4 linked regions of the Homo sapiens genome follow. The protein of the gene in region 4 purifies or fractionates together with the protein of the main gene of each other region. This does not show direct contact. Each region holds a gene or a part of one and is shown on either strand. Other genes may lie near its edges.

Region 1 (7,028 bases), on a different chromosome or scaffold from region 4:
AGAACTCACTCTGGCGAGATCCAGATCTGCCTGTTTCCGGTGCCTCCAGAAGGTGACCGAGGAGCGCGAGTGTGGCCGGATCACTGGCTCCCCATGAACCAGCAGCTTCACAAAGACGCTCAGGACAATCACACCATTTACCAGCCATAAGAGAAGAGTAGGCATCATCCAGTCAAACCAGCCCCCAGAACCTAAGAAGGAGCGTCTCAGCAGAGTCTGCTAGGAAAGGCCTTGCGGAGCAGCCAGGCACCTGACAGACCCCAGCACTATCACAGGAAAGAGTCTTCTACCTCATTTTCAGAAGAAAGGGCAAATAATTCTATAATCTAAACAGGGCTAATGACTGTAGCCCTTCTCATTATGGAGCTGAGTGCCATAAAAATCTTTGTTTTGAAAGGGTTGAGGCATTGGTTTTGCAACCTCAGATAAAAAACACGATATCCTCCTTCAAATAGGTACCACCCCTCCACCCCAGGGTATTTAGAGTAGTGTGGGTCCCTGATTTGTTTTGCTCATTCTGACTGAACTTGGGCTTGCCTTGTTACTTCTAAAATGGAACTTATGCCAGTCCCTATCAGAAGCAAGCAGGTGGGGGCCCACTATAAAAGCCCTTTGGGACCTGGTAGCCAAGCCAAGAAGTTTGTACACAGGGTCCTTCTCCTGCCATAGTGGTCCAGCCATGCCCAGGTGGGGCAAGGGGCCTCCACCTACCTGACTCGAATGACAGGACACTGCGGCCAGAGCCTGAGTGTGGGTGCTGGTCAGAGTCGTGGGCCCCTCCCCACTGCAGCAGGGAAGTCAGGGGGTTAAAGGAGAGGCACAGGAAGGTGAGGACACACAGAAGAATCCGTGAGCGGTCTACCATGCCCAGCGCCACAGGAGGAGAGTCTGGCTCATCTTTGACCTTCAAAACAAGGCCTCGAGGTTGGAATAAATACTGCATAGGTTTTTACAGCACTTTATAAATACATATATATATATTGAGAAATGGTTATGAGGTTTAAATTCAAGTCGATTAACTCAGGACTAAGGCCAGATGGGAACTGAGAAGCCTATAATTCACTAACTGCTGCTCAAACATTGGCACATTCACCTGCTTGCTAACTGAGAAAAGTACATGTTCCAAAGAACAAAGGTAGAAGAGATTTTCTTTTAAAATAGAAATCTACCACAAAAGAGAACACACTGTATGATTCTGTTTCTGTATAATTCCAGAACAGGCAAAATGAATCTAAAGTAACAGGAAACCAATGAATCAGTCATTGTCTGAGGCTGGAGAGGGGTGTGGGAAACTACCTGCAAAGGTGTACAAAAGAGCTTTTTGGGGTGATGGAAATGTTCTATATCTTGATTACAGTGACAGTTACATAGCACTGTACATTATGTTAAAACTCTTGGTACTGTACTTTTAAAGTAGGTATATTTTATTGCATTTAAATTACACCTCAATGAAGTTGATCAAAGACCGTATTTAGTGTGAATCTATCTAAAGGATTTTACCTGTTCTAAAACTGTATCATTGTCTACACCCACCCCACTCTCCATTTTACAGCAGGAGGGCTGAAGCCAGATCTCCCCTGCGCCCCAATGTGTATATAGCATGTCATTTCTTTTCAATATTTTAAAACCATTTAAGATTTTCTTCTGATGACTCAGAAGCCCAGCTAATTCAATTTATATGTCAAACAGCCTGTTGTTGCCAAACAGAACCACATTTATAAGAATATTTCAAAAATGGAGCTTCCTTAGTAAAATTAAGTATATGATACAATAAACAGCTTAGTCAAAAACAAACACTAGGAGGGAACTTTGTGCTTTCAGAGTCAGAAACTGCCGAAGTCAAAATACAGTACAAAACCCAGTGGTCTCTACAGGTTCCCAGGAAGATCATTAGGCTCAGAGCGTCTCTTAAGTAATTCCATTAAACTACCATTGCCAGGGGCTTTGACGATTAAAGGCCCATAGGTAAAATGTTATCTGTTAGACTGCAAATTGTAATCATTTCTGAAAAGAGGACCCAGAGGCAGCCTCATCCTAAACCAACTGATCAGCCTCCCAAAGTGGTCTTGCCAGGCCCATTAAAGGCAGAGTGAAGCAATGAGGTGCCTCCAGCAGCTCCCAACGCCCCCACAACAGCTACTCTGCATTCTCGTTCTGGATCTGGCACTCATTCCTCTCTGACGGGGCCTATCGGCAAGGACCAGTTAAACCTGAGGGACTGTTTCCCCCCGGAGTCAGTTTTTTCTTTCTTTATTCTCCAGGACCTGGCTAATTTCACAGAATTCCTGTTTTTCTCCAGGCTAGGCCCTCTTAACATGCGGCCTGGCCTCATAACTGTGACCTCCCAGCTATCTTCTTAGGGGAAATGGGAAAGATTCCAGGGATCAGGAGATTTCAAAAGTCTGTACCTTTGCATCATCCAATAGAGGGCTTCCTGGCTCAGAGTCAATGGAGTAGGGAGAGAAGCCAGCCTGGGACCCTGAGTCAGAGGCTGGGGGGGACATCAGAAGGACATTCTGATTAAAGTCCTCGATCTTCAGGTCCACCTCATTGTCCACCAGACTGCCTAGGTCGATGCCCTTTAGAAGCTCTGCAAAGAAAACCCCACCTGGTGAAAATGATCTGCTTTTACAAAGCCCCACCTGGGCCAGGGCTGACAAGCCTTTTCTCAGCACACTTACTGTTCTTTTGATTTGCCAGCTTCAGCACCATGTTCTCCTGGCGCAGTTTATGATTGACCTGCTGCAAGTATTTGATGTAATCAATGGCCTTCCTCAGAACGCCAGACTTGTGCATCTGGGTAGGAAGATGAGTGAAAACACAGTGAGACCAGTGCAGGCTACAGTGTGAAAAGAGCAGAGCCCTAGCACTTGGGATGACAGCATGGCTCTGTGAGAGGAGAAACCAAGTTCAGATGCTGGTCCTCCCAATGATTAGCTGTGCCACTCGGGAGAAGTTATTCCATACCTCAGAACCTCACTTTCCTCCTCATTAGCACAGAGATAATGAAAGCGCGTGAATCACAGGCTTGCAGCAGGGCTAAATGAGATAATGAGTGTAAAGGGCTTAGCCCTGAGCCTGGCAAATAGTTGACACTCAATAAATATTAGCTATTGTTCCCACTTCTTATAATAATCCTAGCACCATAACAAACTTTAACGAAAACAAATGAAAAAAACAACCACAGCATTGTTGGACAGTTATCTTTTTTTTTTTCTTTTTTCCAAGACAGAGTTTCACTCTTGTTGCCCAGGATGGAGTGCAATGGCGCGATCTCAGATCACTGCAACCTCTGCCTCCCAGGTTCAAACAATTCTCCTGCCTCAGCCTTCCAAGTAGCTGGGATTACAGGCACCTGCCAGCACGCCCGGCTAATTTTTTGTATTTTTAGTAGAGACGGGGTTTCACCATGTTGGCCAGGCTGGTCTTGAACTCCTGGCCTCGTGATCCACCCGCCTCAGCCTCCCAAAGTGCTGGGATTACAGGCGTAAGCCACAGTGCCTAGCCTGGACAGTTATCTTAAGGCATAGATTTTTACTTAGGATGTACAGCTTTCAGATTTGTAGGCAAGGAAAATGAAATTTTCTTTCAAAATAGGGTTTAAACATAGATAGGTTTTAAAAATAAAATCTCCTACTTTCTAGAAGACACATACACTGAAACACCAGAAACATTTGGAACATCAGTTTCCTCTATGTGTTGCTGGTCAAAGACTCAACCTCTTTTTTCTTTCTTTTCCTTAAAAGGTAACCCCTAAACACAGCTAAAACTATGCCATCAGCTGACTCCAAGGTACACACAGTCCTGTATCTGGAACTACTGAGTGGCAGGCATCTTTCTCTGCCTCTGACAGTGGAGTCCCCATCACTGCAGAGCATAGCCAAAGGAGTCAAAGGTCTCAGCGGGTCACTGCCTTATCAACCCTCACCAGTCCCTTATGTTTTTTAATATTTTATAATCTTGACATGACACCAAGATGCTTTAATAAAAAAGCACCTCTAACTCGGTCTTGTATTCACTTACCTTGAGCCTGGGACTTCTCTAGGCTCCTGAGGCAAAAACAGGTAGAGGGGAGATGGTGGAACATAAAACACAATTTTGCTTGGCACCCACCTTGGCGTCTGTCCCCATGACCAGGTCTTTCAATTCGATGATTTTGTCATTGATGGAGGAGCGATATCGTTTCTCAATGATATTATGGGTTGTCCGCCTTTCTCCTTCTTTGGGGGGCTCAAGCTGCTTGACTCCCCCAGGTACCTGCTTAATGGGCACTTTCTCTTGCCCCATCATTACAGGCATTGTGGTCAGAATGGTCCCACTGCTGCCCACCAGGGTCTAGAATAGGGACAGGTACACAGCAGAATGATCCCTTTGTTAGTCTGCATAAAGCAACCTCAACACAGACCTGCCCGCTTTGGCCAAGTGCTGCCAGACCTGGCAGTACTTCATGAGGTCTGAGACTCTTCCTGGGTTAATCAAATCAGGCCCCAAGAAGTCTCAGGAGCCACGGAACCTTGGTTACTACCTCCCTTCAAGAATCACTGCTGATAAACTACACCACAAGAGGATTAACATGGCTAAATATGTTTTAAGTTTTGATCTACGTATGCCAGAAACAAGTCATATGATTTCTGCTTTGCTGTCAAACTGTTAACCACTTCTAAAGTTGTACACGGTGAACCACGAGTTGGCACCAGAGAAAACTTTCTCCTAGTGTATGACACATTTTTTCCTCTCAAATGACAATTAAGCAAATTACTGCATTTCTTTATACAATTTTGCCATCAAAAAGCTCAAGGGCAGAAGTGACACTCTCAATAAGAGCCATTTGATTAAGTAAATAGGCCAACCATGGAGGTCTCCCCTTTTTATTCTTCATCTCTGTTTTCTCCTCTTATTTTTTCTAACTTTATTTTATTTTATTTTATTTTTTTTGAGACGGAGTTTCGCTCTTGTTGCCCAGGCTGGAATGCAATGGTGTGATCTCGGCTCACCACAAACTCTGCCTCCCAGCTTCAAGTGATTCTGCTGCCTCAGCCTCCCGAGTAGCTTGGATTACAGGCATGCGCCACCATGCCTGGCTAATTTTGTATTTTTAGTAGAGACGGGGTTTCTCCATGTTGGTCAGGCTGGTCTCAAACTGCTGACCTCAGGTGATCCACCCGCCTTGGCCTCCCAAAGTGCTGGGATTACAGGCGTGAGCCACCACGTCCTGTTTTTTTGTTTTTGTTTTTTTTTTTGAGACAAAGTCTCACTCTGTTGCCCAAAAGCTGGAGTGCAGTGGCGTGATCACAGCTTACTACAACCTGCACCCCCCTGGTTCAAGTGATTCTCCTGCCTCAGCCTCCTGAGTAGCTGGGAATACAGGCACCCACCACCACACCTGGCTCATTTTTGTATTTTTAGTAGAGATGGGATTTCATCATGTTGGCCAGGCTGATCTCAAACTACTGACCTCAGGTGATCTGCCCACCTCAGCCTCCCAAAATGCTGGGAATACAGGCGTGAGCCACTGGGCCTGGACCAATTTTAGTTTAATTTCTTAAATAATGGCCTCAATATCTAATCAGCCAATAAATAAATAAAAAGGTGCCCAATTTCATTAGTTGCCAATAAGTACGTCATGCACAATAAAAACCACAAATCTTAAGTTTATAGCTTGATGAATTTTACATATGTACACAATGTATATAACCACCCAGACCAAGATATAGCCCATTTCTACCAGCTCAGAAAGTCCCCGCATGCCCCTCCCCTCCTTGTCACCACCGCTCTGAATTCCAGCACCATAGCTTCATTTTGCCTCTTTTTAAACTTCATATAAATGGACTCATTAGCATGAACTCCTTTGGCTTGACACACTATTTCTTTTTTTTTTTTTTTGAGACGGAGATTTGCTCTGTCGCCCGGGCTGGAGTGCAGTGGCGCAATCTTGGCTCACTGCAAGCTCCACCTCCCAGGTTCACGACATTCTCCTACCTCGGCCTCCCGAGTAGCTAGGACTACAGGTGCCCGCCACCATGCCCGGCTAATTTTTTGTATTTTTAGCAGAGACGGGGTTTCACCATGGTAGCCAGGATGGTCTCGATCTCCTGACCTCATGATCTACCCACCTCGGCCTCCCAAAGTGCTGGGATTACAGGTGTGAGCCACTGCGCCCGGTGGCTTGACACACTATTTCTGAGGGACAGCCCCATGTTGTTTCATGCATCAGTAGCTTTTTTTTTTTTTTTTGAGAGTCAGTCTCGTTCTGTCATCCAGGCTGGAGTGCAGTGGTGCGATCTCGGCTCACTGCAGCTTCCACCTCTCAGGTTCAAGCAATTCTCCTGCCTCAGCCTCCTGAGTAGCTGGGATTACAGGCATGCACCATGCACCACCATACCCAGCTAATTTTTGTATTTTTAGTAGAAATGGGGTTTCACCGTGTTGGCCAGGCTGGTCTCAAACTCCTGACCTCAGGTGATCCACCCCTCTTGGCCTCCCAAAGTGCTGAGATTACAGGCGTGAGCCACCGTGCCTGTCAGCAGTTCTGTTTTTTAATTGCTAGGCATAATTTCATTGTATGAATATATCACAATGTGCTTATTTTCCTGTGGATGGACATTTGAGTTGCTTCCAGTTCTTGGATTTTATGAATAAAGCTAGTGCTTCTAAATTTTAATCACCATTTACTCTATCAGATTCTCATGCTATAGGATGCTGAAAGTGGCTAAGAACCTACAACTGAAGGATGGGGTACCTTCCATGTTCTTCACCTTGGAGCCCTTCCCTGCCTGGTGGCCCTAGGGTCCTTCAGAAGTCATCAGCAGGATCTAAGAGGTGAATGGTCTTGTGTGGAGCTATTAGCCAAGAATAGAGGGTCCTTCTGCTATTCTTTTCTACCTCCTTGTAGACTCCAGTACTCCCACATCGAACACACATTGCTAATACTTTTTCGAGCGAAAAACAACTAAGAGGGGTGACATTTACAATTTGACTGATTTGTGCTATAGACCCTCCCATACCTACTCAGCATATAGAGATTTAAC
Region 2 (7,028 bases), on a different chromosome or scaffold from region 4:
ACTATTTTGCCTCAGAGGAAAGAAATGGGATCAGAGGATTGAAAAGAAACTTCCAAGATAAATATTTTTTTCTAAAATCTCAAGCAAAAAATAAGATTAAAATAAATTCTCTCTGCTGATAGCTGAGATGAAAAAAAGAATAAAACATAAATACATTCTCTCTGCTCTGCTATTAATTTTGCATTATCTAAACAATTTAATAAGAATTGGCTGGGCAGGGCCAGGTGCGATGACTGTAATTCCAGAATTTTGGGAGGCCGAAGTAGGTGGATCACCTGAGTTCAGGAGTCTGAGACCAGCCTGGCCAACATGGCAAAACCCCTTCTTTACTAAAAATACAAAAATTAGCCGTGCATAGTGGTGGGTGCCTGTAATCCCAGCTACTCGGGAGGCTGAAGCAGGAGAATCACTTGAACCCAGGAGGCAGAGGTTGCAGTGAGCCGTGATCACGCCACTGCACACCAGCCTGGGCAACAGAGCAAGGCTCCATCTCCAAAAAAAGAAAGAAAGAAAGAATTGGCTGGGCAGCCACGCATGACAGCTCAGGTCTGTAATCCCAGCACTTTGGGAGGCCAAGGCGGGAAGATCATTTGAGCTGACGAGTTCAAGACCAGCCTGGGCAACATGGTGAAACCCCATCTCTCTACAGAAAATAGAAAAATCAGCCCAGCGTGGTGGTGCACACCTGTAGTTCCACTGAGGCAGGAGAATCCCTTGAGCCCAGGAGGCAAAGGTTGCAGTGAGCCAAGATTGCACCACTGCACTCCAGCCTGTGCAACACAGCAAGACCCTGACTTAAAAAAGAAAGAAAGAAAGAAAGAAAGAAAGAAAGAAAGAAAGAAAGAAAGAAAGAAAGAAAGAAAAAGGAAAAGAATTAGTGCATGTAAACAAAGGCTAACAATTTGTCCCAAGGATATTTAGTATCCCGTATAATACAATGCTATCAAAATAGAAAACCCTTAGTATTTTCTTTGCCTAGTTTTACTCAGTTTATTTACTAAGGTAATAAAATCATTCTTTTATTCCTTTATTTGACAAATGTTTATTGAGGGTAGGGCATTCAGATATAGTAGGGTAAGACAATGGGAGTTCTTAGCTACTTCAATTTCTTCTCAAATTGTACACCAAAAGAAAGAAGGCATGTATGCTTCCATTCTTGTCTGATAATTTAATCACAGGAGATGAGTATTAGACATTAGAAAAAAACAGAAAATGGTTGTATATGGAAATGCTATTGTCCAATCCACAGAAGTAGATTTTGCAAAACTAAGACTCCTGTAGAAGCTTGTGACTTACAAGTTGGAAATCACAAAGAGTGCACAAGATTTTATCTGTTTGTCCTTATCTTTGTAATCTTGTATCTGGCAGCTTTTTCCTCTATCTGCCACACTAACTGGACTACTGGAAGTTTTCTCACCAATAATGATGGCAGCAACACCAACTGAAAATTTTTCCAGATGAAAACGACTGCACTCACGCTCTATGATGTACAGCTCCGGTGGCTAAATTGCTCATCTGCATTAAAGTAAATGCAAAACTGCTTCTGGGCTGGGCATGGTGGCTCGCACCTGTAATCCCAGCACTTTAGGAGACTGAGGCGGGAGGACTGCTTGAACCCAGGAGTTCAAGACCAGCCTGGGCAACACGGCAATACCCTGTCTCTACCCCAAAAAAATACAAAAATTACCCAGGCCTGGTGGCATGCCCCTGCAGTCCCAGCTATTCAGGAGGCTGAGGTGGGAGGATCACCTGAGCCCAGGAGGCAGAAGTTGCATGCAGTGAGCTGTGATTGCACCACTGCACTCCCGCCTGAGTGACAGAGCTAGGCCTTGTCTCAAAAACAAAACAAAACTGCTTCTGAAGATATTACCTTTTTTTTTTTGAGACGGAGTCTTGCTCTGTCGCCCAGGCTTGAGTGCAGTGGCGCGATCTCAGCTCACTGCAAGCTCCACCTCCCGGGTTCACGCCATTCTCCTGCCTCAGCCTCCTGAGTAGCTGGGACTACAGGCACCCGCCATCACACCCAGCTAATTTTTTGTATTTCCAGTAGAGATGGGGTTTCACTGTGTTAGCCAGGATGGTCTCGATCTCTTGACCTCGTGATCCGCCCACCTCGGCCTCCCAAAGTGCTGGGATTACAGGCTTGAGCCACCGCGCCGCGCCCGAAGATATTACTTTTAAGGGGAGAATATTTTCGTAGTACAATCTCCAAATTCCAGGTTGAAATTCTGACCCCTTATCCTAATAGAAGATAATCAATCAGCTATTCAAATTTTAATATTAGGAAAAGTATAGGGAACCATGTTATTAGTACAATTTTTTTTTTTTTTGAGACAGAATTTCACTCTGTCGCCCAGGCTGGAGTGCAGTGGCGCAATCTCGGCTCACTTGCAACTTCTCCCTCCCAGGTTCAAGCAATTCTCATGCCTCAGTCACTTGAGTAGCTGGGATTACAAGCATGTGTCACCACATCCAGCTAAATTTTTGTATTTTTAGTAGAGACGGAGTTTCACCGTGTTACCCAGACTGGTCTCAAACTTCTGGCCTCAAGTGATCCACCCACCTCGGCCTCCCAAAGTGCTGGGATTACAGGAGTGAGCCACTGCGCCTGGCCTTAATATAATAATTACACATCAGGACATAGTTGGTAACCTAAGGAGCTTTTAATATTGAGAAACTGCCTGAATTCCATTGCCTAGTCTATTCCAAAAAGTAAAGCTCTTCATAAAAAGTCAGATTCACATTACAGAGAAAAAAAATTATGTCAGAAGGATTGGTAGCTATTTAATAGTTACATATAAGATTAATATGAATGCAGGAGGTCTTCACTAGCAGGTGTCAGAACTGCTCAATATTTTTAACAATAACCTGGATAAAGCTACAGAAGGCAGGCTAGTAAAATATAAACTTAAAATTATAAAAATAAGTTTTTAAAGAAAAATTAAACTATTTTTTAAAATAAGCTAAAATTGGCTGGGCGTGGTGGCTCACACCTGTAATCCCAGCACTTTGCGAGGCCGAGGCCGGTGGATCACCTGAGGTCAGGAGTTCATTACCAGCCTAGCCAACATGGTGAAACCCTGTCTCTACTAAAAACACAAAAAATTAGCAGGGCGTGGTGGTGTGCGTCTGTAGTCCTAGCTAGCTGGGAGGCTGAGGCATGGGAATTGCTGGAACCCGCGAAGAGGAGGTCGAAGTGAGCCAAGATCATGCCACTGCACTCCAGTCTGGGTGACAAGAGCAAAACTCCATCTCAAAAAATAAAAAATAAAAAAAATTAGCTAAAATTAACAGGACGAAATTTAATAATGATGGATGTGATATTCGACATTGGGATTCAAAGAATCAACCATATAAACTGAGACCAAAAAAGGGGGTCAGGTATTTGGATTCTAGACCCTTGAAGAAGTAGCAATTCCTACTCAATTAATCAACAGAACACTAGGTTTCAAGGTTTCAGAATAAAAAGAGTAACCAGTCTTGCTGGGTATGGTGGCTCACACCTGTAATCCCAGCACTCTGGGAGGCAGGGGCATGAGGATCGCTTGAGGCCAAGAGTTCAAGACCAGCCTAGGCAACAGAGTGATACCCACCCCCCATCTTTACAAAAAAAAAATAATAATTTTTTAATTGAATAGAGTGGTGAAAAGGGGAAAAAATAATAGCCAATCTTAATGTTCGCATAAAATAAGTAGATTATATCTGGAATACAGTATTTTATTTAAGAAGAATACTAAAAGCTACAGAATAAGAGTGCCTCTCATAGAAAACCTTAAAAGAAATAATTTGAAAACTGTATCTTATAAGATAGCACTGTACTAAGAGTAAAGTTTCTGGAGCAAGGCTCCACTATCTCCTAGATTTGGGACCAGTGGTAAGTTTCTTCTCTTTGCCTTAGCTCCCTCATCTAAAACACTGATCTAATTACAAATATCTACTTTCTAGAGTTTTGGAGAAGATTAATATATAATATTTTAAACTAATTATATAATTACACATAATACGTTAATATATAATTACATATTATATATTAGTATATATAAAATACTTAGAAGAGGGTGATATAGTAAGTACTCAGTAAATGTCAACCATTACGAACTGAAAGCATGGATGTTTAAACAGCAGAAGGCAAAAGATGCCAGGACTTGATACACATGTTCCAATTGAACATGATGACCAAAGGGATCCTTTCTTTTCTGTGCAACTTGAGAAAGTCAGAACAGCATATTCAATCAACGGTGAAGACTTCGGTTCAAATACAGATGAACTTTCATGGAAGGAGCATGTTCCCCATAATTGTTACACAGAGGTTGGGTAACTGTCAGAGGTGCTTCAAAGGACAGCAAGCACTTTGCACTAAAAACTCAGAATTGAATTAAGATTCTATGATTATAAAAAAATTGATTTGTCTTTCAACAGTTTCAATCTAGACTATGGTTCCACGAGTACTAGTCCAGCAGTACCATATGAAATATTACACTTTAGCAAAAATACAATGAAGGAATAAGCTTATGGCTTATCTTTCCATATTTATCATGGAAGAAAATTGCTACCCAATAAAAGCAAGCCAAAAAAACTGATGAATGGAAGGAAGTTATCAATGAAGAGTGCAACAACAAGCAGAAAAGTTTATTTTATTCTCAATCCATAGTAAGTGCTCAGGGAGACTTTTCACAAAAGAAATCAGCTGACAAGCATTTTAAATAACTGTTTCTTTCCCTTTAAACAAATATTCTGAGAATAAAATCATTCAAACCTCTGTGAGGATTTGAAGATCCCACAAAGTCCTATAATACTTACCTAATCATTCTTAATTTTCATTCAAAACCACAACACAGAAAAAGAAATGTAGTGCTAATCTTTTTATTTCTCTTTTACTAGAAAATCTGTCTCATTGATCCTTAAGAGTCTAATTAATGAGAGCCTTAAGGCTATTAAAAGAAATACGCAGTCTTCTAACTGAGTTCTCTGGCTACAACCTATGTGTTCTACAATCTATTCTTAACATTACCACTATTAATAATACCAAAGTATAGCTCCAATCTGGCAATCTTCATTCCAAATAACATCCTCTAAATGAGATTTGTAAATATTAATTAGCATTTCCTATAAAGATTTTTAAAAATCTGTCCAATAATGAATGGCAAAATATGGTCAATTCTAGCCTTATCTCGTTGAAATAATTTTGAGAAATATTGGAAGAGAGAGGAAATAGAAATGAATTAATGAATATGACAGAGTTCTAACAGAGTCTCAAATAAGCTGATGATAATTTTCACTCTAAGTCTCACTTTTGAGCAAGATGAAGAGTTAATATACTGGCATTACGGAACAGTCATTAAAAATATTCATGTAAACCACATAGAAACATGGAAAAACCTAAATCTTCAGTTCAGCTTGTGAGCAAAAAGAAAAAAGAAAGAAAGAATATGAGAAAACAAATGCTATCACCATATTCAAATGAGAACCACCATAAGAAAAATTATCAATTCTTTTATTGTTTACCAGACTATAATATTGATTTTAAAACTAATCAAAACTGATTCATCTAAACACAGTAATGCTTCCATAAAAAATATAAGAAATTCCAGCCAGACATGGCAGCTCATGCCTGTAATCCCAGCACTTTGGGAATCCAAGGTGGGAGGGTCACTTGAGGTCAGGAGTTTGAGACCAGCCTGGCCAACATGGTGAAACCCCCATTTCTACCAAAAAATACAAAAATTAGCTGGGTATGGTGGCGTGCGCCTGTAATCTCAGCTACTCCAGAGGCTGAGTGGTGAGAACTGCTTGAACGCAGGAGGTGGAGGTTGCAGTGAGCCAAGATCGCACCACTGCACGCCAGGCTGGGCAAGAGTGAGACCCTTTCACAAAAAAGTAAAATATATAAGAAATTCCTCTTCTAGGATTTTATAAAAGTTAAAACCTGTGGGAAATGGTCTTATTTTAGGTCACATTCAGCCCTATAGTTTCACCACATTACTGTATTTCAGGACTGTGATAAGCCCTGGGGGATAGAAATTAATTTAACAAATGCTTATAATCCAGCATGGGCCAGACATTATAAGTTTGTGGGGATGGCAGCATTGTTCAAGTCTCCACCCTGCTTTCCTTTTGAATGACTGGTCATCAACACTCTTATCATCACTCTCCTGAATACTATGCAATTTTTTCACTTTCCTTAAAAAACTAATTTGAAAGTCAGTGTCCTTCTGTCAACCCTTCTTTTTCACAAGTTAACTAACTTTTAAACCTCAGTACCATCTTAGATCCCTCCTTACTTTTTTCATTTACTTTTTTTGAAATGGGAGGCTCTCTATATTGCCCAGGTTGGACTTGAACTTCTGGGCTCAAGCAAATCTCCTGTTTCAGCCTCCCAAGTGACTGAGACTACAGGCTCAAGCCACAGCACCTGGCTCCCCTCCTCACTTTCTATCAGTTTCTAAATTCGGCATTTTTTTTTTTAACCACATTTCATCTCACATTTCTTCTAGGTCTCTATCTAAATTGAGGCTTTTATTTCACATCTGGATTATTCAATGAGAATGCCTGTTAAGACACAGAGTTGATACCTGGACCATCTCCTTTCAGCTCACTTCAATGTTTACTTGTAGCTGGTATGCACAGTTAACACACTGACAACTTCCCATCTCAACTACTTCTCTCCTCAGCTCTCCAGCACCTCAGGAGCTTGCCAAGCCCTACCTAACCAGTGTACCTGGGAAGTTCTGGGAGCCTTTTAGATAAAGGCAATCTTTATCAGTGAGGATTGACTGTAGATGGAAAACCACCCAGCTCCCCTTCATTTGGGGCAGTTATACAAAACTCTGAGGCAGTTATACAAAAATCTCCAAAGGCTTAAGCAGCCTCCAGTTGGCCTTCCACTATTAACCTTTTTTCCTCCTTCTCTGATTCTACCTGCTTCCTCACTTGTGCTTTATAGCATCTCACCTGCACCCATGTCATCTCAGGTCCAAGTTCAAGATGCACTTCAGAGAAACCATAAGGGCTACAAAAATAATGGTCAC
Region 3 (7,028 bases), on a different chromosome or scaffold from region 4:
CTCCTGAGCTCAAATGATCCACCCACCCCAGCCTCCCAAAGTGTTGGAATTACGGGCGTGAGCCACCATGCCCGGTCTGAAGTCTTTTTTTTTAAGCTATTGATACTAAGAAGGACAGTCAGACTTGATCCCAAGCTGCTAGAAGCTGTATCTCACATAAATCACTTTTGGAGAAACATCCTCTTATTTAACATTTTAGAAACGTGTACTTGAATTCATAACTGTAGAGAATTACTGCCTTCTGAAAATGAATAAGAACTGAAGCTTTTATTTAGTGTGGCTGTATTAGTCCGTTCCCATGCTGCTGATAAAGACATACCCGAGACTGGGAAGAACAAGAGGTTTAACTGGAATTACAGTTCCACATGGCTGGGGAGGCCTCAGAATCATGGTGGGAGGCAAAAGGCACTTCTTACACGGCAGCAGCAAGAGAAAGTGAGAAAGATGAAAAAGTGGAAACCCATCAGATCTCGTGAGACTTATTCACTACCATGAGAACAGTATGGGGGAAACCGCCCCCATGATTCAAATTATCTCCCACTGGGTCCTTCCCACAACACATGTAAATTCTGGGAGATATAATTCAAGATGAGATTTGGGCGAGAATACAGCCAAACTGTATCATTCCACCCCTGGCCCCTGCCAAATCTCATGTCCTCACGTTTCAAAACAAATCATGCCTTCCCAACAGTCCCACAAAGTTTTAACTCATTTCAGCATTAACCCTAAAGTCTGCAGTCCAAAGTCCCATCTGAGACAAGGCAAGTCCCTTCCGCCTATGAGCCTGTAAAATCAAAAGCAAGCTAGTTACTTCCTAGATACAATGAGGGTTACAGGTATTGGGTAAATATAGCCTTTCCAAATGGGAGAAATTGGCCAAAACAGAGGGGTTACAGGCCCCATGCAAGTTCAAAGTCAGCAGGGCAGTCAAATTTTAAAGCTCCACAATTATCTCCTTTGACTCCAGGTCGCACATCCCGGTCATGCTGACGCAAGAGGTGGGTTCCCATGGTCTTGGGCAGCTCCACCCCTGTGGCTTTGCAGGGTACAGCCTCTCTCCCTGCTGCTTTCATGGCTGGTGTTGAGCATCTGTGGCTTTTCCAGGTGAACGGTGCAAACTGTCAGTGGATCTACCCTTCTGGGGTCTGGAGGACGGTGGCCCTCTTCTCACAGCTCCACTAGGCAGTGCCCCAGTAGGGACTCTGTGTGGGGGCTCCGACACCACATTTCCCTTCCACACTGCCCTAGCAGAGGTTCTTCATGCACATCCCACCCGTGCAGCAAACCTCTCCCTGGGTATCCAAGAGTTCCCATACATCCTCTGAAATCCAGGCGGAGGTTCCCAAACCTCAATTATTGATTTCTGTGCACTCACAGGCTCAACAACACATGAAAGCTGCCAAGGCTTGAGACTTGCACCCTCTGAAGCCACGGCCCCAGCTCCACATTGGCCCCTTTCAGCCATGGCTGGAGTGGCTGGGAAGCAGGGCACCAAGTCCCTAGGCTGCACACAGCATGGGGACCCTGGGCCTGGCCCACGAAACCATTTTCTCCTGGGCCTCCAGGCCAGTGATGGAAAGGGCTGCCAGGAAGGCTCTGACATGCCCTGAAGACATTTTCCCCATTGTCTTGGGGGTTAACATTTGGGACGGCAAGAGAAAATTAGAAAGATGCAAAAGTGGAAACCCCTGATAAGACCATCAGATCTTGTGAGACTTATTCACTACCACCAGAACAGTATAGGGGAAACCACCCCCATTATTCAAATTATCTCCCACCAAGTCCCTCCCACAACACATGGGAATTAGGGGAGTATAATTCAAGGTGAGATTTGGGTGGGGACACAGCCAAACCCTATCAGTGGCATTACTTTCCCTATCATATGCAATCAAGAAAATACTACCAAAAAATACTTCTTGGCAAATCATTGTTTGGAAACACCACTCAGGCATCTACTTGAGAACTGACAAACTACAGAATCAGTTGTCACTAACAAAAAGCAGATTTTCAGGGCCTTGTGGTGGAACTCATAACAGAAAGTGGCAGACACTCTTGACTTTGCAACCTTTCTATGCCGATTTTGTGTATAGAATTGAGCTGGGTTTTCCTTGCCAATGGAATCCTCTTCTAGGTAAATGAGTCCCACCTGCCAAGAATGTTAGGGAAGCTGATGAGTGACAACATTTTGTAAATTATCACAGTGTGCCTTGCCTTCATCTATGGAAATTAATATAGGAAATAGCAGATTAGGGACTTCTAAAATGCATGAAAATTTTTAAATTAGTTCCAAATGATTTCTGAAACATCCAAGGCATTACAGAATCATAAGAATAGTTAAGAACATACAATTCTCAACTAAGTAAATTGTACCCCTGGGTTTTGTGACAAGTAAGTTATTTTTCCAAAAAGATGGCTTTTCTTTCCTATATTTGATTTCAGTTACACTGTTTTCGTTCAATCTGTTTCCTTTGTTCCATAATGAAATGATCTCTTGTTTTGAAACTGAAAAATAAAATATGAGCAGATATGTATACTAATGCATCATTTTCCAAATCTTAGTTGTAGAGAAAATGGACAATGTCACAGGTGGCATGGAAACATCTCGCCAAACCTATGATGACAAGCTCACAGCAGTGGAAAGTGACCTGAAAAAATTAGGTAATCTGTGACAAGACTAAACCATGAAATCCCCTGACTCTACATAAATGACCACAGCTTCTTAGAATGATGTTGCTATAAACTCCCCATTCACCCGGAAGGACATTCAATTTTTGTGTTGCATGTTGAGTCTCCCCTCATGATTTAATTCAAATGCTTAAATTTTAAAGTTAAGGGTCAGTTTTGGAATTAAGTCCTGCCAAGAAAACTATTATGTGCCAAATAATATCTGAAGATCAATCCTGACTGAAAAAAAACACAAATACCCTTTATTAAAAACTGTCACATAAATAGGAATTTACTGAGCATTTTTGAAATACTTTAAACTACATAGAATTGTAGAAATTAAGTTATAAAGTGAAAGATCCTAGCATATTCTATTCCTTGATTTTTGCTTTCATTAAAAAAAAATTTGGGAAATTTAAAAGGTTAGTTTCTTCTTGACAGCCTGCCCACTGCCCTAAAATCTAGTAAATTCCCCCTCCCTCTTTGAGAAAAATGTTCAGCCAAGTTTGTCATTCCTAGTTCTGAGCTTCTTTTCCGATTCCCCAGGACCCAGTTTTAATAGATATGTACATTTTACTAATGCAGAGCTGTCCGCTTATACTGCCAATTTTGCATCTAAAATACAGTGCATACCGATTAAGTGTGTTCGGGATCTTTGGCCTTGCCTGAACACTTCTCCATACCACCAATATAAGTCACAGATATTTCTTATTCCAGGTGACCAAACTGGGAAGAAAGCTATCAGCACCAACTCAGAACTCTCCACCTTCAGATCAGACATTCTAGATCTCCGTCAGCAACTTCGTGAGATTACAGAAAAAACCAGCAAGAACAAGGATACGCTGGAGAAGTTACAGGCGAGCGGGGATGCTCTGGTGGACAGGCAGAGTCAATTGAAAGAAACTTTGGAGAATAACTCTTTCCTCATCACCACTGTAAACAAAACCCTCCAGGCGTATAATGGCTATGTCACGAATCTGCAGCAAGATACCAGCGTGCTCCAGGGCAATCTGCAGAACCAAATGTATTCTCATAATGTGGTCATCATGAACCTCAACAACCTGAACCTGACCCAGGTGCAGCAGAGGAACCTCATCACGAATCTGCAGCGGTCTGTGGATGACACAAGCCAGGCTATCCAGCGAATCAAGAACGACTTTCAAAATCTGCAGCAGGTTTTTCTTCAAGCCAAGAAGGACACGGATTGGCTGAAGGAGAAAGTGCAGAGCTTGCAGACGCTGGCTGCCAACAACTCTGCGTTGGCCAAAGCCAACAACGACACCCTGGAGGATATGAACAGCCAGCTCAACTCATTCACAGGTCAGATGGAGAACATCACCACTATCTCTCAAGCCAACGAGCAGAACCTGAAAGACCTGCAGGACTTACACAAAGATGCAGAGAATAGAACAGCCATCAAGTTCAACCAACTGGAGGAACGCTTCCAGCTCTTTGAGACGGATATTGTGAACATCATTAGCAATATCAGTTACACAGCCCACCACCTGCGGACGCTGACCAGCAATCTAAATGAAGTCAGGACCACTTGCACAGATACCCTTACCAAACACACAGATGATCTGACCTCCTTGAATAATACCCTGGCCAACATCCGTTTGGATTCTGTTTCTCTCAGGATGCAACAAGATTTGATGAGGTCGAGGTTAGACACTGAAGTAGCCAACTTATCAGTGATTATGGAAGAAATGAAGCTAGTAGACTCCAAGCATGGTCAGCTCATCAAGAATTTTACAATACTACAAGGTAAGTCAAAATTCTGAATTTGTATTTGTATTAGTTGTTTATTGCTGCATAACAAGTTACTCTAAAACTTGGCAATTTAAAACAATAAATATTCATCATCTCATAGTTTTTGTGGACCAGGAATTCAAGAGCAGCTTAGCTAGATGGTCCTGACTCACTGTTTTTCATGAGGTTGTGTCAAGATCTCAGCCAGAGCTGCAGTCATCTGAAGGCTTGACTGTGGCTGGAGGGTCTGCTACTTAAGTGGCCTGTTCACATAGCTCTTGGCAGGAGGCCTCAGTTCCTTGCTGTGTGAAATTGCTTGAGTGTCCTCACAATGTGGCAGCTGGCTGCTGCCAGAACAAGGAATTCAAGAGAGAGAACAAGAAGGAAGATACCATGACATACTAGCCTCAGAAGCCACACACCATCACATCCACTTCATTCTGTTTCTTAGAAATAAGTCACTAAGTCCAGCCCACACTCAATGCAAGTGGAATTAAGTTCCACATCTTGAAAAGAAGTGTAACTAAGAATCTGTGGACAGTACTTAAAGGGACTCCATTAATTATTTGTTGAGTGAAAGGTTGGTTAATTTGAATTTTCTTGGTCCTTGAGCTATTTCAATGCAATATAAATCAAGCTCCTCTGAAAGCAAGATCAAGTCTTTTGGGTCACAAAGCTACCATTAAGGGAGTTACATGTCATGAGTAGATGAATGGTTGGCCATCACAGTAACACAGAGGTCACAGTAAGGTCACAGAGGAAGGAAACGATGTGTCTTGCTTATAAAATCTGAGTTTTGGTAGGTGTGCTGGCTCATGCCTGTAATCTTAACACTTTCGGAGGCTGAGGTGGGAGGATCGCTTGAGACCAGGAGTTTGAGACCAGCCTGGGCAACATAGCAATATCCCATCTCCTAAATAAACAAATAAATGAATGAATACATACGTATAATCTGAATTTTACTGTTATCCAGATCATCCATATAAATTAAAAGTCCTTGACTCAGACTAAGTCCACAGTTGAAGAATTGTAGCATCATATATTAACAGTATTTTCCAGTCACAAACTATTTTCACAGGTTTTAAGTTGAAAGTACTGGTGGAAGATGCTGTGCTCAGCAGTCTGGGGTATACAAATGAAACCAACGGTCCTCACCCTTAGGGAGTTTAACATAAAGAGAATTTCAGGGCATCAGAAGATGGGCTGTAAGCAAACATTCAAGGGGAAGGGATTACACAAGGGCCTGAGTCACTAGGGGCCACCTTGGGGTATGTCCCCCACACTGGTCTAATAATCAAGGGTAAAGAGTGGTAGTTAATAAGCCCCTGTGAGGCTGAAGGCAGATCCGGATAGCAGATGGCAGGACTCTGTTCAATAGCTTTGTCAGTGACTAGCATGGATGACCTGCTAAAGCAATGCTTGTGTGACTTGAAACTGTATATGCCAGCCAGTGGCTGATAGACTCATAATCCACAATGATCTAGAGAGGCCAGGATAGTATCAAGATGTCAATCAAATGAAGTAGATAGGAATACATGTAAAATCCTGCTCATAAATGGATGAGACAAAACAGATAAATGTTGATGGGAAGGCATGGCTGGAAGGAAGTGTGCATGAAGCATGGGGATTTTAGTTGACTGGAAGCAGTGAAATATGTCTTCCAGGGAAGGGAATGTGTTCCTTGACTGTGGACTGTGTTAAGAAAAAGGGAAGTAACATCTGACTCTGTTCAGTATGCCAAGACCACCTCTGGAAGATAATGTTTACTTTGAGTAGCCCCTTTCAAAAGAGACATTCCCAGACCAGCATGCTCAGAAAAGCAACATCAGAATGATAGGGGCTAGAAACCACGTACTGTGAGGAAGGGTTGAGGACCTGGGAGCTTTCACCCCTAGGAGAGCCTGTTCAGTGGAGAACAAGACAGCCATCTGCACTTATTTAAAGTTGCTCTGTCTGAGGAATGCCACTGGGTGAAACAAGACTAGTGGGTGTTCACTAAGGGAAGATCAATTTTGGTTTTACAGAATGTTCCTCATAAAATGGGTATTAGCTGAAAATATAATGGCTCCCCTACTCAATCAGGATGCCCCAGCTCTGGAGGGGCTGGACAGTTGCAGGTCAGGGATATGGTAGGTGTGAGTCTTACTCTGAAAAAGGGGTAGCCCTTCAAATGATTTAAAAAAAAATTCTTAGACAATCTTATCATGGTATTCTGGATATTTTCTAGTTATTAATTTTATAGTTTTATTATTTCATTAATTTAATTGTTACCTTGTCTTCAGTTATTTAGTTTATAGACAGCGTGGCTTATCAGCCAAGTAAGGACATGAAAAGCTAGTATTTGAAGGTGAGACCCTGAGTGTTTAAGTTAATGTTTCTATTGTTAGGATTCTTTTATCAGCTAGTATTGAAAGTGAATGTACTGAGCACTTTTCACCAACGTCCCAATGAATCCTGACAGCAGCTCTATGAAGCAGCTACTTACAATGTCATCGCCAGTTTATAGACGAGGAAATTAAGGCTTAGAAGGTTTGAGTAACTTGCTGAGGTTTACACAAGTAAAAAGTAGCTCAGTGGAATCCGAGCCCAGGCCGTCTGGTGCCAAACCTGATGCC
Region 4 (7,028 bases):
ATTAATGTGGACAGATATGTAATAGAGAAATTACAGTAAAATGCTGATTGTAGAATCTAAGTGATGGGCAGATGTGTGTTCACTGTGTAATTCTTTCTAGTATTCTGTATGTTTGAAAATTTTTATAATAAAATGCTGGGAACAAATACCTTTATGGATCCAAAAAAAGCAAAGAAACAAAGTAATGAGTAAGGCTATGCCATGGTTTCATGGTTCTCAGTCTGGCAGCAGACAGTGGCAACCAAGCCTTCATGTACTAAGGAGACCAGCATAGGCTGTCTTCTCCAGACAAGGGCCAGAGCCAGGTTTATAACTTGGAACCAGGAGCTGGATTAGGTCAATACAAAAATACGCAGAACTGTCGTTATAAGACTTGGTCCTAGGCTGGGTGCACTGGCTCCTGCCCATAATCCCAGAACTTTGGGAGGCTGAGGAGGGAGGAATGCTTGAGCCCAGGAGTTCGACACCAGTCTGGGCAACAATAGCGAGACCCCATCTCTACAAAAAAAAAAAAAAAAAAATGGAAAATTAGTTGGGCATGGTGGTGTACACCTGTGGTCCCAGCTACTTAAGAGGCTGAGGTGGAAGGATCGCTTGAGCCTGGGAGGTCAAGACTGCAGTAAGCAGAGATTGTGCCACTGCACTCCAGCCTGGGCAACACAGAGAGATTCTGTCTCAAAAAAAAAAGGCCAGGCACAGTAGCTCACGCCTGTGATCCCAACATTTTGGGAGGCCAAGGTGGGCAGATCACCCGAGGTCGGGAGTTCAAGACCAGCTTGAACAACATGGAGAAACCCCGTCTCTACTAAAAATACAAAAAAAATTAGCTGGGCATGGTGGTGCATGCCTGTAATCCCAGCTACTTGGGAGGCTGAGGCAGGAGAATTGCTTGAACCCAGGAGGCAGAGGTTGCAGAGAGCCGAGATCATGCCATTGTACTCCAGCCTGGGCAACAAGAGTGAAACTCCGTCCCAAACAAAACAAAACAAAACAAAACAAAACAACAAAAACCTAGTCCTGGTCTGGAGGTCTAGGAATCTGGGTATAAATGAATATAAAATGTTTTTGCAATCTATCCATCTGACAAAGGTCTAATATCCAGAGTCTACAAGGAACTTAAACAAATTTACAAGAAAAAAACAACCCCATTAAAAAGTAGGCAAACCACATGAACAGACACTTCTTAAAAGACATTCATGCAGCCAACAAACATGTGAAAAACAGCTCAACATCACTGATCATTAGAGAAATGCAAATCAAAACCACAATGAGATACCATTTCACGCCAGTCATAATGGCAATTATTAAAAAAATCCAGAAACAACAGATCTTGGCAAAGTTGTGGAGAAAAAGAAACACTTTTTTTTTTCTTTTTTTTTTTTGAGATGGAGTTTCGCTCTTGTTGCCCAGGCTGGACTGCAATGGCATGATCTCAGCTCACCGCAACCTCCACCTCCTGGGTTCAAGTGATTCTCCTGCCTCAGCCTCCCAAGTAGCTGGGATTCCAGGCATGCACCACCACGCCTGGCTAATTTTTTTTTGTATTTTTAGTAGAGACGGGATTTCTCCATGTTGGTCAGGCTGGTCTCAAGCTCCCGACCTCAGGTGATCTGCCCACCTCGGCCTCCCAAAGTGCTAGGATTACAGGCATGAGCCACTGCGCCTGGCCTAAAAGAAACACTTTTGCACTGTTGGTGGGAATATAAATTAGTTCAACTATTGTGGAAGACAGTATGGCAATTCCTCAAAAATCTAGAGGCAGAAATACCATTTGACCCAGCAATCCTATTACTGAGTATATACCCAAAGGAATATAAATCATTCTATTATAAAGATACATGCATGCATATATTAATTTCAGCACTAGTCACAATAGCAAAGACATGGAATCAACCCAAATGCCCATTAGTGATAGACTGGATGAAGAAAATGTGGTACATATGCACCACAGAATACTATGCAGCCATAAAAAGGAACAAGGTCATGTCCTTTGCAGGAAAATGCGTCAAGCTGGAAGCCATTATCCTCAGCAAACTAATGCAAGAACAGAAAATCAAACATTGCATATTCTCACTTGTAAGTGGGAGCAGACAGTGAGAACACATGGACACATGGAGGGGAAACAACACAGACTGGGGCCCATCAGGGTGGGAGCTGGGGGAGGGAGAGCATCAAGAATAGCTAATGGATGCTGGGCTTAATATCAAGGTGAATGGTTGATCTGTGCAGCTAACCACCATGGCACACATTTACCTATGTAACAAACCTGCACATCCTGCACATGTACCCCAGAACTTAAAAGTTGAAGGAAAAAATAAAATAAAATACTCAACTAAAAATAATAATAATAATAATAATTGCAAAGTGGATAAACAGTGAGGGTGATAACAAAGGGAGAAAAGTAACAAAACAAAACGAATCTTCCACTAAAATTTAGGTTGAAAACTAAAGTTTCAAAACACACAAGTCTAACACTGAAAGATAACCAATAAAATTAACAAATGAAATAAAAATTCACTTTTGATGACTCTGATTTTATAAAAGAGTTGGGTAAGACTGCTCTGGTCCTGCCTAACAAAGCTGAAAAGCAAGCCTCTAACAGACTAAACTATTTCTGAGTAACTTAACAGTGACCCAGAATAAAGCTCAAGAATATTTAGAGGAATACAAAAATATCCAGCACCTAGTAAGGTAAAATTCACAAAGTATAGCATCTGATAAAAAAACATTAACAGGCATGCAAAGAGCAGGAAAACAGTACCCACAATGAGGAGCAAAACTCTATAGAAATAGATCCAGAAATCATACAGATACTTGAATTAGTAGACAAGGATATAAAAATAGCTCCTAGGACTATATTCCATATGTTTCAGAAGAAAAGTAATGACTGCACATATGATATAGAGGCATGGAAGATATTTAAAAGGCCCAAATCAATATTTAGAGATGAAAAAGATAATGTTTTAGATAAAAAATATAGTGGATGAGATTAACAGCAGATTAGGTATTGCACAATAAAAGATTAGTAATCTTGAAGACAACATAACAGAAAGTACTGAAATTGAAACACAGAAAGGAAAAAGACTGAACAACAACAACAACAAAAAGCATCAGTAAGCCAACTTTTAGTCAGCCATGTAACTGAAGTCTTAACATATCACTGAAGTTTGCAGAGGACAGATAAAGTATTTGAACACATAATGGCGAAAACCTTCCCCAACATGTTGAAAACTATAAAAACCTACAGACCCAAGAATCTCAATGAGCTCCAAGCACAAGAAACAAGGAAAATTACCTAAGGCACATAATAATCAAATTGCTTAAAACCAGTAATATAGAGAAAATCCTAAGAAAAAGAAAGAAGATATGCTACGGTAGCCAAAGAAAAGGAAAAAAAGATATACTACACATAGAGGAACAAAGATAAGAATGTCAGTAGCTTTTTAATATTAATAAGAAGCAATGGAAGGCAGAATATCTTTAAAGAACTAACAGGAAAAAAATCTTGTCAATCTAGAATTCTATACCTATATTTTTCCAAAGCAAAATAAAGACTTTTTCAAACATAACAAAAGCTAAAAGAATTCATCACCAACAGACTTGCACAACAAGAAAAATTAAAGTATGCCTTGGGAAGAAGAAAAATGATACCAAATAAAAATCTGGATTGATACAAAGAAATAAATAGCAGTGAAATGGTAACTACGTGAGGAATTATAATGCTTTTCTTATATCTCTTTAAAATATTACCTGAAGGTAGATGGTGATAAGTTAGAGATACATTATAAACTTTCAAGCAACCACTAAAAAAAGTTATTGCTAATAAACCAACAAAGGAGATAAAATGGAATCACATAAATTATTTAACTAATGTAAATGATGGCTGAACAAAGGGGAAAAAGAAACAAAAAACAGACTAGTAAAATAAAAGAGGGGAAAAGAAACAAAGAACAGACAAAACAAACAAAAAACGAATAGCAAGATGGTGGAATTAAATCTAACAATATCAATAATCACATTAAATGTAAATGTTTTAAACTCCCTAGTTAAAAGGCAAAGATTATCAGATTGGATAAAAACATAAGACCTAGCTATATGGTGCATACAAGAAACCCACTTTAAATAAAAAGACAAAAAGAGTTTACAAGTAAAAGGATGAAAAAAAGATGTATATGCTAACACTAATCAAAAGAAAGCTGAAGTAGCTACATTAATACCAGACAAAGTAGATCTCAGAGCAAAGACTATTACCAGGATCAAAGAGGTCCATTTCATAGTGATATAAGGGTCAATTCATCATGCACACAAAATAATCCTAAATGTTTATGTACCTATTAATAGAACTTCAAAATATAAAGCAAAAACTGATACAACTGCCAAGAGAAATAGATAAATCCACAATTATAGTCAGAAATTCTAATACTCCCCACAACTTCAATAACTGATAGCTCCAATATATAGAAAATCAGTAAGGACATCAAAAACTTGAATAACACTATCAACCAATTTGACTTAATTGACACTTATAAAACATCTCACCCGGCCGGGCGCGGTGACTCACACCTGTAATCCCAGCACTTCGGGAGGTCATCGCGGGCAGATCATGAGGTCAAGCGATCGAGACCATCCTGGCCAACATGATGAAACCCCATCTCTACTAAAAATTAAAAAAAAAAATTAGTTGGGCATGGTAGTGCACACCTGTAGTCCCAGCTACTCTGGAGGCTGAGGCAGGAGAATTGCTTGAATCCAGGAGGCGGAGGTTGCAGTGAGCCGAGATCATACCACTGCACTCCAGCCTGGTGACAGAGCGAGACTCTGTCTCAAAAAAAAAAAAAAAAACAAAAAACTCACCCAATAATAGCAGAATATATATTATTTTTAAGTGCATTAGGACATTTACCAAAGAGAGAATATATTTGGATTATAAAACAAGTCTCAATAAATTTACAAGATGTCAAATCATAAAAAGTATGCTAACCACAATGGAATCAAATTATAAATCAGTAACAGAGATATCTTTAAAATTTCCAAATATTTGGAAACTCAATAACAAACTTCTAAATAACTTAGAGGTCAAGAAAAAAATCAAAAGGGAAATTATTTTAAATTATGACCTGAATAAAAATGAAGACATATGTGTCAAAATGTGGGGGAATGCTGATAAAGCAGTACTTACAAGGAAATTAGAAGGCACTCAACATTTCTGTTCCATCTCCTGGAAGAGAAGACCAAATACAGCATGTTCTCACTTATAAGTGGGAGCTAAATGATGAGAACTCATGAGCCCAAAGAAGGGAACAACAGATACTGGGATCCACCTGAGGGTGGAAGTTAGGAGGAAGAACAGGAGCAGAAAAGATAACTATTGAGTACTGGGATTAATACCTGGGTGATGAAATAATCTGTACAACAAACCCATGACACGAGTTTACCTATGTAACAAACCTTCACATGTACCTCTGAACCTAAATGTTTAAAAACAACAACAACAGAAATCTCAACGTTATAAAATACAGGCCACCAATGAGTCCAAGTTTCCATCAAACAAACAAGTATGAGTTAACGCTTTAGATGCAGAATTTCTTGAGAATATACCCAGATGAATAAATATGATCTGATCTAGTGTTACATTCTATTCTCCGGCTTACAATCCATCCTCACATATATTCCTCAGGATTCCACAGATATAAATTAGCAAAATTTTGCAATTCTTTTCAAGGACAGACTATTTCTAGTCAGATCAGATTTTGTCCCTATACTAGGCAACATGCAGAGATCTGGGCCTCATGACAAGATAATAGAGGTAGCTCTTAAGTGTGGATAGCCCTTTGCAAAGAAACTACCCTAGGTGAGGTTATTACAGGATCTTCAAGCAAGAGAAGGCTAATTTTCAAAAGTAAGCAGCTTCTGTCAACAATGGAGGCTCAGAGTGACTGGAGTTTTTTTCAAGATTCTCAGCTCTGTCCATGTCTACCTAGATGTCCCCATTCCAAGTCTCAGGGTTCTACTTCTTTCCAAACAATATTCTAAATGAGACACTGACAAAGGCTAGGTAATTCTATTACTATCGCAGTTAAAACTGTGTTCAGGCACCTGCCACCATGCCTGGCTAATTTTTCTATTTTTTGTAGAGACCGAGTTTTGCCATATTTCCCATGTTGGTCTTGAACTTCTGGGCTCAAACAGTCTTCCTGCCTCAGCCTCCCAAAGTGCTGGAATTATAGGCAGTGAGCCAAAATCATGCCACTGCACTCCAGCTCGGACAACAGAGCAAGACTCTGTCTCAAAAATAACATAACATAACATAACATTACATAACATAACATAACATAACATAACATAACATAACATAACATAACATAAAACTGTGTCCAATTTTTAGCAAGTCTTTCCGTGGCTACACAAAATGAAGTGCTTTAGAACCATGGAAACTTTTTGATTCTCTAAGACTTGACCGATCTAACGCTTTGAAGACCTGAGTTTGTCATTTGCTTTCTGTCAGTGCTCCAGTGAACAAAGAAGCACCTATCTCACTTCTCACTTCTCCCTCAGTCCCTGTAGTCATCATTACTGCCATTAACAGTCAAGCGCTTTAGCCACTTGGTCCTCCAGCACACAGCTTCAGAAATAATTTTATCACAATCAACCAAATGTATCAATTTGATTGTGATGCCACTACATGTTGTGGGTTACTAGATTATTTCCCATTGGCAAAGAGCTAAAGAAATTACCAAACCGATGCCCCCAAATTCTATCTTTGAAAGTTTTCTCACCAGGATCCCATTCTTAGTGACAATTTCTTTATCAGTCAGGGTCCAGGCAGGAGTCTGAAAATGCATCCGTTATTTTAACAGAGAGATTGGACTTGATTTTTAAAGTTGTCAGCATCAACATCAAGAGAAATTTTCATATGAAAAATGTTAACCATATGTTGAAGAACTGAAAAGGCAAAAAGAGGACACTGAGTCCTACTTATGTGATAAGAAGTAGTAACAGCAGGAAGCAGCTATCACTCCTAGGACAAG

Evidence for each region.
Region 1: the proteins of CGRRF1 (region 4) and SREBF2 purify together in Homo sapiens (affinity purification with mass spectrometry; 3 studies listed by BioGRID and IntAct, with this or other methods). This does not show direct contact.
Region 2: the proteins of CGRRF1 (region 4) and USP33 purify together in Homo sapiens (affinity purification with mass spectrometry; 3 studies listed by BioGRID and IntAct, with this or other methods). This does not show direct contact.
Region 3: the proteins of CGRRF1 (region 4) and COLEC12 purify together in Homo sapiens (affinity purification with mass spectrometry; 3 studies listed by BioGRID and IntAct, with this or other methods). This does not show direct contact.

Annotation. Positions count from the first base shown.
Region 1 is NC_000022.11:41,871,105-41,878,132, reverse strand, and holds part of SREBF2 (sterol regulatory element-binding protein 2), read right to left. Parts: intron 4,336-7,028; coding exon 4,114-4,335; intron 2,797-4,113; coding exon 2,682-2,796; intron 2,591-2,681; coding exon 2,409-2,590; intron 905-2,408; coding exon 712-904; intron 192-711; coding exon 10-191; intron 1-9.
Region 2 is NC_000001.11:77,749,825-77,756,852, forward strand, and holds part of USP33 (ubiquitin carboxyl-terminal hydrolase 33), read right to left. Parts: intron 1-7,028. UniProt on the Homo sapiens protein: Deubiquitinating enzyme involved in various processes such as centrosome duplication, cellular migration and beta-2 adrenergic receptor/ADRB2 recycling.
Region 3 is NC_000018.10:343,695-350,722, reverse strand, and holds part of COLEC12 (collectin-12), read left to right. Parts: intron 1-2,559; coding exon 2,560-2,658; intron 2,659-3,381; coding exon 3,382-4,428; intron 4,429-7,028. UniProt on the Homo sapiens protein: Scavenger receptor that displays several functions associated with host defense. Promotes binding and phagocytosis of Gram-positive, Gram-negative bacteria and yeast.
Region 4 is NC_000014.9:54,512,905-54,519,932, reverse strand, and holds part of CGRRF1 (cell growth regulator with RING finger domain protein 1), read right to left. Parts: intron 1-7,028. UniProt on the Homo sapiens protein: Able to inhibit growth in several cell lines.